Linked DNA regions of Homo sapiens: region 1 is linked to region 2. The links come from fine-mapping of genetic effects on gene expression. A gene starts in region 2. The other region holds a variant in brackets. All regions are shown on one strand. Distances are from middle to middle. Region 1 overlaps MRPL22 (mitochondrial ribosomal protein L22). Region 2 holds the start of CNOT8 (CCR4-NOT transcription complex subunit 8).

What was found. PIP is the estimated chance that this variant, and not a neighbour inherited with it, causes the effect. A credible set is the group of variants that fine-mapping cannot tell apart.
Region 1: its variant is the best candidate, but not a certain one, in a credible set for the expression of CNOT8 in lung (GTEx, PIP 0.63).

What each region holds. Positions count from the first base shown.
Region 1 is chr5:154,963,170-154,968,541 of GRCh38, reverse strand. MRPL22 (mitochondrial ribosomal protein L22) reads right to left here. Exons shown (of 7, transcript NM_014180.4): 7 at 1-1,856. The coding sequence ends at 1,645. Among named protein-coding and RNA genes, the nearest start is that of MRPL22, 25 kb to the right of the region's middle. The variant C/T (reference allele first, on the strand shown) is at 2,115.
Region 2 is chr5:154,855,832-154,861,210 of GRCh38, reverse strand. CNOT8 (CCR4-NOT transcription complex subunit 8) reads right to left here and starts at 2,584. Exons shown (of 7, transcript NM_001301073.2): 1 at 2,443-2,584. RefSeq lists enhancers at 1,276-1,778, 2,282-2,784, 2,740-2,909, 2,785-3,288, 3,289-3,790 and silencers at 2,320-2,379, 2,440-2,539.

The DNA.
Region 1 (5,372 bases), 110 kb before region 2:
GAATTTGCATTTTTAAACAAATTCTTCAAGTGATTCTAAAAAAGGTTTTCTACAGAGAACATTGAGTCTCTTGTTTCATAAATGAATGAAATGGAGGCCAGCAAGGGAAGAGACCTATCCAGTCTTCTTTCTGGCTAATGAGAATGCACAGACTAGAATGAAGGTTACCTTTTAATATTCCAGTGTTATTTCCCTGACTCCATGCTACAACAGCTTAGGACCCAGAATGAATCTGTCCTACACCTTGGTTTATTCCACTGACCCCTGATGTCTTTTTACCCATGCATTAGGTTAACTGGAGAGACACAAAAACCCAGCTGTATACTCAAAAGGTATGCAGAACCAGCTACTTTAGAAACCTTTCAATCATAGCCCCAATATTTACATGCTGTGTGACTTGTGATAGTTATTTGAATTCTGTGTGCTTCGGTTTATTCCTTTGTAAAGTGGTAAAACAAAAGCTACATTTTCAGGATGTTGTGAAGAATTATGTAAAATACTAGCACAGAGCTTGCAAATAACAAGTTCCCAGTAAACAGTAACTATTATTAATGCCATCTTAAAACATGGCAATAAAACTACATTTTTTCATTCTCCTAAAGCCGTATTCTCAAAGCGTAGTCCCCTACAACAGAATTACCTGGAAGTGTTTGTTTAAAACATAGATTTCTGAAACCAGCCCCCCATAAGACCTAGTGAATTGAATCATTGGGGTGGGGCCCAGAAGTCTGCATTAACAAGCAAGCATCCTCGATTCTTCTTTTGCATGCAAAAGTTGGACTAGGGCTGTAGACAAAGAGTACTTCTTCTTAATGAAGACGTGTATGAATGAGAGGGAAGCAGTGTTGAACACTCTAATTTGAAACTAACAATTTTCTGCTAATAAAAGGTTGAGTGCCACCTACTGCCCCATTTTAGAATGCAATGCTGAGATTGGTTCAATTCCTCTCTCAGTAATTGAATTTACCCTGAAAAATAAATCAATCCTAAACAAGATATCCAAACAATATAAAGCACTGTTGGAAGAAGAAATAAAAACAGGCTTTGCTTAACCAAAAGAAAATTTTCAAAGTTAAAGGTTTTTGGAGTTTTAGATTCGTATATCTAATAAACTCCTGTAGTTTCGAGTTACTGCTAAAACAGTAAAGGAAAATATAATTTTTGACTCACTGGCCTGTGCCAACAGTGAAAGGAAAAACGGTACCACTGAACACCCTAAAATACTGTAATGAAACAACATGCAGCCACTCTAACTTCCCATGGTCCCAAGAGAAAATTAAGTGAAATAAAAGCAATTTTCTTACCTCATAACACTGTATTCAAGTCCAGTATCAAAACAGCCACCTGCAGGACACTAGTTGGAAAGTTAACATTCCCTTTCAAAGTTACTCCAAAAGCCTTTTGAAATATAGTCTGTTACTATGTTTAAAGCTGATTTCCCCTTCCAAGTCGCAAATGCATACAAATATGCCCAGAGGCTCAAAAGAAATGGGCAAAGCCTTATAAATATTCATTTACAACTAGCAGTTATACACTGTTTCAATAATTCAATGAGAAATCATAAAAAGCATTTGCCTTCAATTTTTGTTTATTTTTAGAAAATAAATGGCAAAATATATACACTGTGGAGTCTGAATCTCCTCATCATAGAGTGTGAACGATGGTCCGGCTGCGAAGCTGCTGAATATACTCTTTGGCATGGGCAACTGCCGTCTTTGGTGGCTCAGGTGGAGGTGGGGGCCCTTCCACCAACTTCACAAAATAATGGCAATAAACCTTCTCCATGATCCCAAAGCGACCTCTGCCATGGTAGCGGATGCGTTTCAGGCACTGGCCTCGTCCTGAGGTGGACTCAGCTAAACAGGAAGAAAAAGAGAATTACAGGAAATGAGTGTTATCCACAAGCCTGATCAGCTGAGCAATTTCTGTCCTTTCCTTGACTGGATTCTGAGATTACATGGGCTCACTGGTTGGCTAGAGCAGGCTTGTCTCAAAACAACTATCTCCTGAATGCTAACTAAGGACCAGGCACTATTCTAGTGTTGGAGAAGTAAGAGTGCACAAGACTGGCAAGGCCCCTGCCTCCAAGCAGTTTACATTCTGGAGAAGAAAGA[C/T]GTAAAATAAAATGATAATTTCAGCTAGTGACAAGTGCTGTGAATAAATCAGAATGAGATGACAGACAATGATGGGGTGTAAGGGACTTCAGACTGGGAGTGTCAAGAGGCATCCCTGAGAAAGAGACATTTGATCTAAGAGCAGAATGAATCATCTATTTGAATATCTAGGGACAGGGTATTCCAGGCAGAGGAAACAGCAAGTGCAAAGGCCCAATGGTGGGAATGCACTCGGCTTGTTTTAGGAAAAGAAAGAAGACTACCATGCTGAAGCATAGTAAGCAAGGGGAAGAGAAGCACAAACAAGGAAAAGAGATTAGAGATAAAGCTAGGGCAAGATTACACAAGGTCCTGTAGGCTCAGGCAAGGAGTTTTTTATTTTATTCTAATTGTGATGAGAAGCCACTGGAGTCAATGGCTCCCAAATGCTGGTTCTCTGACAAGCTACATCAGACTAACCTAGGGAATGTAATTAAAATGCAGATGCTGAGACCTCACCTCTGTGGATTCTAATTCAGTATATCTGGGGTGGGCCTTGGAAATTACATCCTGGGCAAACACCCGTACCCCAACTCTCCCCAGAAATTCTGACTGACAGCCAGTTTTAGGAACTCTGGCACAACGGCCCCTTCAGCTCCCCTCCCCCATTCTGTATATCAAAATTTGACCTTGAAAGTGTAAAGAAATCTTTTAAATAGCATGTAAGGGCCAGGCGCGGTGGCTCACACCTGTAATCTCAGCACTTTGGGAGGCCAAGGCGGGCGGATCACCACAAGGTCAGGAGTTTAACCTTGGCCAACATAGTGAAACCCCATCTCCATTAAAAATACAAAAAATTAGCCAGTTGTGGTGGTGGGCACCTGTAATCCTAGCTACTTGGGAGGCTGAGGCAAGAGAATCGCTTGAACCCGAGAGGCAGAGGTTGCAGCGAGCCAAGATCCACCACTGCACACCAGCCCGGGTGACAGTGCAAGACTCCATCTCAAAAAAAAAAAAAAAATAGTACATAAGAAGAACTGTTCACCTGTTCACCCACAATAAGTCAGAGTAGTAGCCATCTACCTTCTACTATTTTCTGAATGTATTTAGTCAGCTACTTGTTTAGTTAATAAGCCTTTTAAAAAGGTAAAATCTACAGAATACATATCAAATTATCCATTTCAACACTCATCATTCTTATACACTTACTGTGACATACTTTATAAATATAGGGACTATACCAAAGTATGCACTTGACAACTCTCTAACTACGATATCCTCTAGTGAAGTGGGTTTCAGCAGAAGCTTCCTAGCTTTGCCAAAGAGAAAGCCAAGAATGAAAGTGAAAACTGCCTAGGGTCTAAGTGAGATAGGGAAAGACCTACTGCCCTTTTATTAACTTCATTTAGTGGGCACTGAAAAAATGAGTTTACAAATTTCCAGAGAAAGCAGCATTACACAAATCACTTTATAAGGAAACCCCATCACGGCGCGTCCCCTGGATCAACCTGTCTAGAGGAAACCTACAAATAAGAACAGTGAGACCAGAAAACTTCTAAAAAGCATTTTACAAATGTGATAGCTGCTTCTATCCAAAATCATTTCTCTATCCAACTTGAGCACCAATTTCCAAATACTCAATGGATCACTAGATCACAATGATCAACCCCATCACGGTCTACGTCGGCTCCCATTTCCCTTCTATCTCCCCCAAAACACAAACTTACAGAGATCTGCACAAAAGCAGAAGCTCAATGCCTGCTAACTGTCAGTCATGATTTCATCTTAAAGCCATAAAAGATCATCTGCATATCTTAAAGCCATGATGCCATCATTTCTTTATGTCAAAACAAAAACATTAATTTTTCTGAAACATCCTAAGATTCTTTAATACACCGTAATGGGAATACCCAACACAGCCACCCTGAGGTGTAAATGAAATCAGGACTTAGAACATAGTTGCCAAACTGTTTCCTGGTTCCTCTCCTCCAATCTCTCCTCCACTAAGTCCATATTTAGGGGTTTCAAACTGCTTTTGTATATGGAATCATTTCAAGTAAAATGAAACAATATGTAGAAGCCTGATATATATAACACTGTAATGCTGATCTGCTCCTATTGAAACGTGGGTCAAGGAAGACCCAAAACTCTGCCATTCATTCACTCAACAAACATTTTTTAGTTCCTCCTGGGTACCAGGCTCTGTCCTGGGCTCCAAGGATATAGTGGTGACCAAGATATCAAGGGTCCCACTGCTAAACACCCCACAGAGCACAATTTCAAAACTACCGCTTATTGTTAATACTTTTAAAACACTATCTTAATAACATAAATCTCTTACCCAAACCTCTTTGATATAGTTTGAACCAAATACACAGCCTGCCATGTTCAGTTCTCTGGAATATAGGCCCAATCTACCCTTCCCATTTTATCTACTCGAGGTCAAACTTCTACTTCCTTCACACTGTTCTCCTCATTGTACTACACTATTACTGCTTATTCCAACCTATGTGCCTCTGCATGTATGGCCACCCCACTTTAAAAATCTGCTCTTCTCCTGGAAGAGCATTCCTCCAGACTCCCAAAAGCCTATCTTCACATGCCAATTTTTTCTAGAAAGTCTCCACGACTATTCTAACCCATATTGACCTTTTCTTCTCTACTCCAACAATACCATTTGTCTGTATTACTCTTTTTGGTCCCAAATCATATGCTGTCTTTATAAGCATCTGTGTTTCATCTGTAAAAGTCACCTCCTCAACCAAACTTATACCCTTTTTGTATTGCCCCAAAAGTTCATGATCCATAGAAACAGAAATAATTTTGAAATACATCATCTGCTACTTAATATCATTTTTTCAATACAGAGGTCTCTGGTAAATCTGCTCAAATTCTGAAATAAGTTTCAAAGTTTTTCAAGTACATATAATATTAATGGTATACACAGTATTATTATACTTCAGAAGAACAATGTATGCATTCTTCCAAAGAAATACTACTGTCAAAGAACTACAAGTGTTAAATGTTTTAAAATGACACAAAAGATATAACATCACCTATTTAATGTGGATAGTATGCACACAGAAAGTACTCAAATACTTTTTGAATGAAAGAATACATTAAGATATCTCAAAAATGAAGACAACCTGTGTTTTTCTATAGATAATACCCAATAGGTGTAATGAATTTAAAATATTGCCAATATTTTCAGGGCAGGCACAGTGGCTCACGCCTGTAATCCCAAAATCTTGGGAGGCCGAGGCAGGTGGATCACCTGAG
Region 2 (5,379 bases):
TGTGGAGTAAATTACACTATCTGACCATAATTCAGAAAATGTTTCGACTCAGAATTTTAGATTCCTAAACTTGCTTAAGATTTCTCCCCTGCAAAAGGCCTTAAAACCATTTTCTATACCCATATAATGTTAAATCGGTGGTACTTCCTTATTTCCCTAACTGAAATAATACCCTTCATTTTTGGTGTCATTTCAAACATAACCATAACTACTTTGGAGGAAGTGGGTGTATCACTCCTGAGTTTTTGAGAGATGTTTCCGTAAAAGCAAAAGCAACAACAACAAAAAACCCCACACAACCAAAAGACGCCTTTAACTTCCATTTAAAAGAGAATTGGTTTTTAAAAAGCTAACCACTGTTATACATATCTGGCATATATATGGGGACTGCCGAAGCCAGACAGTTGGCAAAAATATGTAAGCCATTTTTGCTCCAAAGTTAGCTAGGATCTGTGGGGAAGTAAACAATAGCTTGCAAGCCCCTGAATGTAGTGCCACTCAAAAATTAAAGAGGAATCGCACTATGCACATTTAATTTAGCAAGTCAAATTACTGCATATGCTGGCCAAAAAATAAAATAAAATAGCAACTTAAATACCAGCAGGATAAGGGCAGTGGCTCACACCTGTAATCCCAGCACTTTTGAGAGGCTGAGACTGCAGAATCACTTGAGCCAGGAGTTCGAGACCAGCCTGGGCAACAAAGTGAGACCCCGTCTCTACAAAAAGTACAAAAACTTAGCCAGGCATGGTAGTGTGTGCCTGCAGTCCCAGCTACTCAGGAGACTGAGCTGGGAGGATCACTTGAGCCCCAGGAAGTCAAGGCTGCAGCAGTGAGCTGTGATTACGCCACTGCATTCCAGCCTCAGCGACTGAGCAAGAGCACGTCTCAAAAAAATCATCATCATCATCATCATCATACCAGCAATTCTGCCTGCCACTTTCCACTTTGTAAGCACATGCTCCAAAATGAGCCTAAGATAGGGGTTTGTCTTCCTCCTTTTAAGCCTCCTCAGGGCAAGCATCTCACAGCGCATCACAACTCTATGGCTTTCAAATATGCTTATTTGCACAACACAGCCCCTAAAGGTAATCTAATTACTTATCTGGGTTACAACCAAAGCAACAGTAACAAGTTTCAAAACTGAAGGAAAAACCGTCCAGGATGTAGTCAGAAACAGGATGCTAATCTCAAGCGTTGCACCTTCCTAGGAATTTTTAAGGGTTAATTTTTATTACATACAATGTTTGCCTCACGGGCTGACTTAAAAACTTGACTCCCACATGAGCTACACAGAAAACTGTGCAAGAAGGAAAGGTTTTCACAAACACACTCACACCTATGAATTACTGAAGTCCCTGCTCTGTGTTGACCTGCAGTGCAGTATGTTCAGATCGCTCCCGTTCATCTACGGTGTAAACTTCTCCAAAACATAGCTTCTTATTTACACAGGAAAGCTCTGAAGGGCAACTAATGATAAAGCCACAGGAAAGTTTTCTCTGCAAGCAATCAAGGCCTTGCTCGGGAAAAGAAACGTTGAGTCTGATTTTGTTCGTTTAAGCCCAAGTGTACAAGGAAACAATAAACATCACTTCCTTATTCTAGAGGACTGAACAAAGGCTTTGCCGTGCATAGATATGATAGAAAAGGAAGTGGCACGTTTGAAGAAATAAATAGCAGCAGCGTTTAAGAGGATCCTCTGACCCTCCCTTACCTCCAAACAGTGTCTCAAGGCACTGCCCTGGATTGAACCGCAGTTCAAACTTCTTAAAACCACCCGAATGGCCCAGGTCTGTGAGTTGGCTCCTCCATTCATAAAGCCATAGAACACCAAGAAAAAGTTATGGGGCCGCAAGAACTAAGGAAGAGGCGGCGATTTAGAAGGGGGAGGCCCGCAAGATTCCAAATTCAGGTCCTCCTCCCCACTACTCCGTCTCCCATCATCATTCTCTTCTCGTTTATCATCATCCTTCCACTTCAAATCACACTCAGTCCTCCTCCTTCTGACACGCCATTCTTCTTCTGTTTTTGTTTGGTAAAGCAAAGTTAAAATTACGGGCCTTAGGACTAAGATAACTAAGTTCGAAGCCAGGCCAGGCCACGTAGTAGTCGTGTGTCCTTGCATAAGCCACTTAATCTATTTCGTGCCTCGGTTTTCCTATCTTGTAAAATGGGTTTGATAACAGTACGCACCTCGGAGGATTGGAGTAGAAGTTAAAATGAAGCATATGAGATGCTTTGTAAAGTCCCCGCACATATTACTCGAATATTATCGTGTGACGGTGGCCATTATTATTACTACTCTTTGCTGGGGTTCCTCTCCTCCTCACACACCCTGCCCCTTACACACGCCCCCACTCCCCTTCCCCCTACAGACCCCCAATGGTCTCTCACACTCTTTCATCTTACGCTCCTCTTTCCGGTAAGCGCAGGCCCGCTTACCGGGACCGACAGGGCCCGCGAAGCGCTGGCTGGCGGGCTGACGAGCTGGCGGGCTGGCGGGCTGACTCCCCGACGGCGGCGACGGCAGCCCCTGGCCCGGAGCTCTTTTCCCTCTACCCCGGATCTGCTCCTAGAACCGAACGAGCCAGTGAGGTGAGCGCCCCCGTGCCCAGAGCGGTCTTACGTGCCTCCCACCAAACAACCGGACGGCACCACTCTACCCACCCGATCCGCCCGACTCGCCTGCTCTCTAGAGTCACTCCAGACGCGCGCGCGCGCCTGGTCACGCCCGCTCCTCCCCCTTTGCGCGCCCCTGCGACTCCGTGCGTGTTCGCTCTGCCTGTGAGGTCGCGGGAAGCAGCGCGCAGGAGCAGAAGTAACAGGGTGCCGCCGAATAGGTGGGGAGTGGAGGCCTGGAAGCACGCTTGCGGAAGACGGCCCGCCTGCGGCCCTCTTCGCGTGATTAGTTGCGCTCGCTCAATTTAATCATGATTCTTACTCCTCCATTTTGGTCCTCTTTCCGAGCGAACAAGGAAGGGGCGTGGTCTAGAACTAGCGCCCCCCCCCACCCCCCCGCCGTGGGCGCGGCCTGGAAAAATCCAAAGGCCGAGGAAAGGGCGTGGCCCTTCGAACAAACCCCTCGAATTACCACGCCCCCTCCTCCTGGCTTTGAAGGACCGTTAAAATCGTTGGCACGAAGGGATTTGTGAAGAGGCTGACGGAGAAAGAGGCTGTCGCGACTTTCTGTTCTAACATGGCCCCGTAGATGTCTCACAAAGCATCTATCCTACGGTTCCTTTCTGGCAAACAATTAGTTGGGGGTGGGGCGGCTCCCCAAAGCCGAATGTGGGTGACGTCCGCCAAGGCCCGCCTACCTCCCGGCCTCACCGAGCAGAGCGAGGAACATTGCCATAGCAACTGGCCCGCCAGGGTCTGCTCGAGTTACAAAGAGGACGGCGCCTCCCGTGGGCACGGCGCCTGGCCAGCGCAGGCGTCGCCGGGCTCTTCAGAGCTCCAAAATCTTTGCGGACGCGCAGGGAGCTCGCCAGATTTTAGTGTCGAGACCCACGGGCTCAGGCCTCGCCCAGGAGCTTCTGAGGCCCCTCTGCCAGCCCCTTGGTTCCCTCTTAATCCTGCTTGAAGAGAGGGCTCTTGACCGACGCCGGCCCTGGGCAGCGTGTGGCCAGCTGGGGCGCGCCTCCGCCTCGTGTTCTCCGCGGTGGGAGAGCAGACAAAGCGCCCGCTTCCTGCACACAGTGTCGGCGGCGGGCCGCCCTCAGCCACTCCCGCCAGCGCTCCACCCCTGTTCCCGAGAGGACGTGGGGGCTGCCCCAAGCACGGTTCTAGTTCTTGTCCCAGATGCTTGTACTTGAGAGGCTGTTGATAAGAAAACGGCAAATGTACCCCTAGTGACGAGGAGAGGGGCTTCTACTATTCACTTTGCACTTTTAAACATTTCCCCCTAAGGGGATTCTCCAAAATCCTCCAATTCCTAGGCTGGATGCCGAGCTGGCCTTGAGCGGCAATTTCAAACGGGATTCCCAAAAGCTGTTCTCCAGGGAGGTGAACTAGCTCCAGCCTCCAGGATAAGAGCATCAAATGCACTTTCTGAACTCCAGTCCTCCTCTTCTCCCCCCCAAATGAGTGTCTAGCTCCTTATCTGCAAAATTAGGTTACGAATGGCTGTCGTGAGCTTGTGAAGATTAAATAGTTAATAATTGGAAAAACACCCCGCACCGAGGAAGATATAAAAGAGCGTTCAATAAATGGCATGTCTCAGTTTGCTCTCCCTAAAACAGTCGATTTGGGGCCGGGATTGGTGGCTCACTGAGCCTGTAATCCCAGCACTTGGGGAGGCCAAGGCAGGCGGATCACCTGAGGTCAGGAGTTCAACACCAGCCTGGCCAACATGGCAAAACCCTGTCTCTACTAAATAATACAAAAATTAGCTGGGCGTGGTGGAGGGCACCTGTAATCCCAGCTACTCCGGAGGCTGAGGCAGGGAGAATTGCTTGAATCCAGGAGGCGGAGGTTACAGTGAGCCTAGATCGTGCCACTGCACTCCAGCCTGGGCGACACAGCAAGACTCCCTCTCAAAAAATAAAAAAATAAACAGTGATTCCGTTGAGGGATACACTGATAAAGAAGGCAGGCAAGTGCCCCATCCCCCAGTCAGTTCTATGGGTTTCTTTTTTTTTTTTTTTTTTTTTTTTTTTTGAGACTGAGTCTCGCTCTGTCACCCAGCCTGGAGTGCAGTGGCGCGATCTCGGCTCACTGCAAGCTCCGCCTCCCGGGTTCACGCCATTCTCCTGCCTCAGCCTCCCGAGCAGCTGGGACTACAGGCGCCCGCCACCATGCCCGGCTAATTTTTTTCTCTTTTTTTAGTAGAGACGGGGTTTCACCCTGTTAGCCAGGATGGTCTCGATCTCCTGACCTCGTGGTCCGCCTGCCTCGGCCTCCCAAAGTGCTGGGATTACAGACCTGAACCACCGCGCCGGGCCAGTTCTGTGGGTTTCTAACGTGCTTTCTTCCACTTGTAATTTAGAGTCAGAAGAGGCTAGCGCTGACAGGCAGGCAGTAGTCACATGAAAAGCGGCCTCCCCAATCCTTTCTTGGAATTTTGTTTTTTCCTGTGGCACTGGGCCTGGTGTGTGCTAAAACAAACAGGAAACACCATGTCCAGCCTCACTACCACCCCTCACCCAGAATTGGGTGTTCGTTTCTCAAATTATTGAAAATAGATATAAAGCAAACAGATGGATTTTATTTTAGGAGAAGTTAGAGTGTTACTCTTTTTTTTTTTTTTTTTTTTGAGACAGAGTCTCGCTCTGTCGCCCAGGCTGGAGTGCAGTGGCGCAATCTTGGCTCACTGCAAGCTCCGGCTCCCGAGTTCACGCCTTTCTCCTGCCTCAGCCTCCCTAGTACCTGGGACTACAG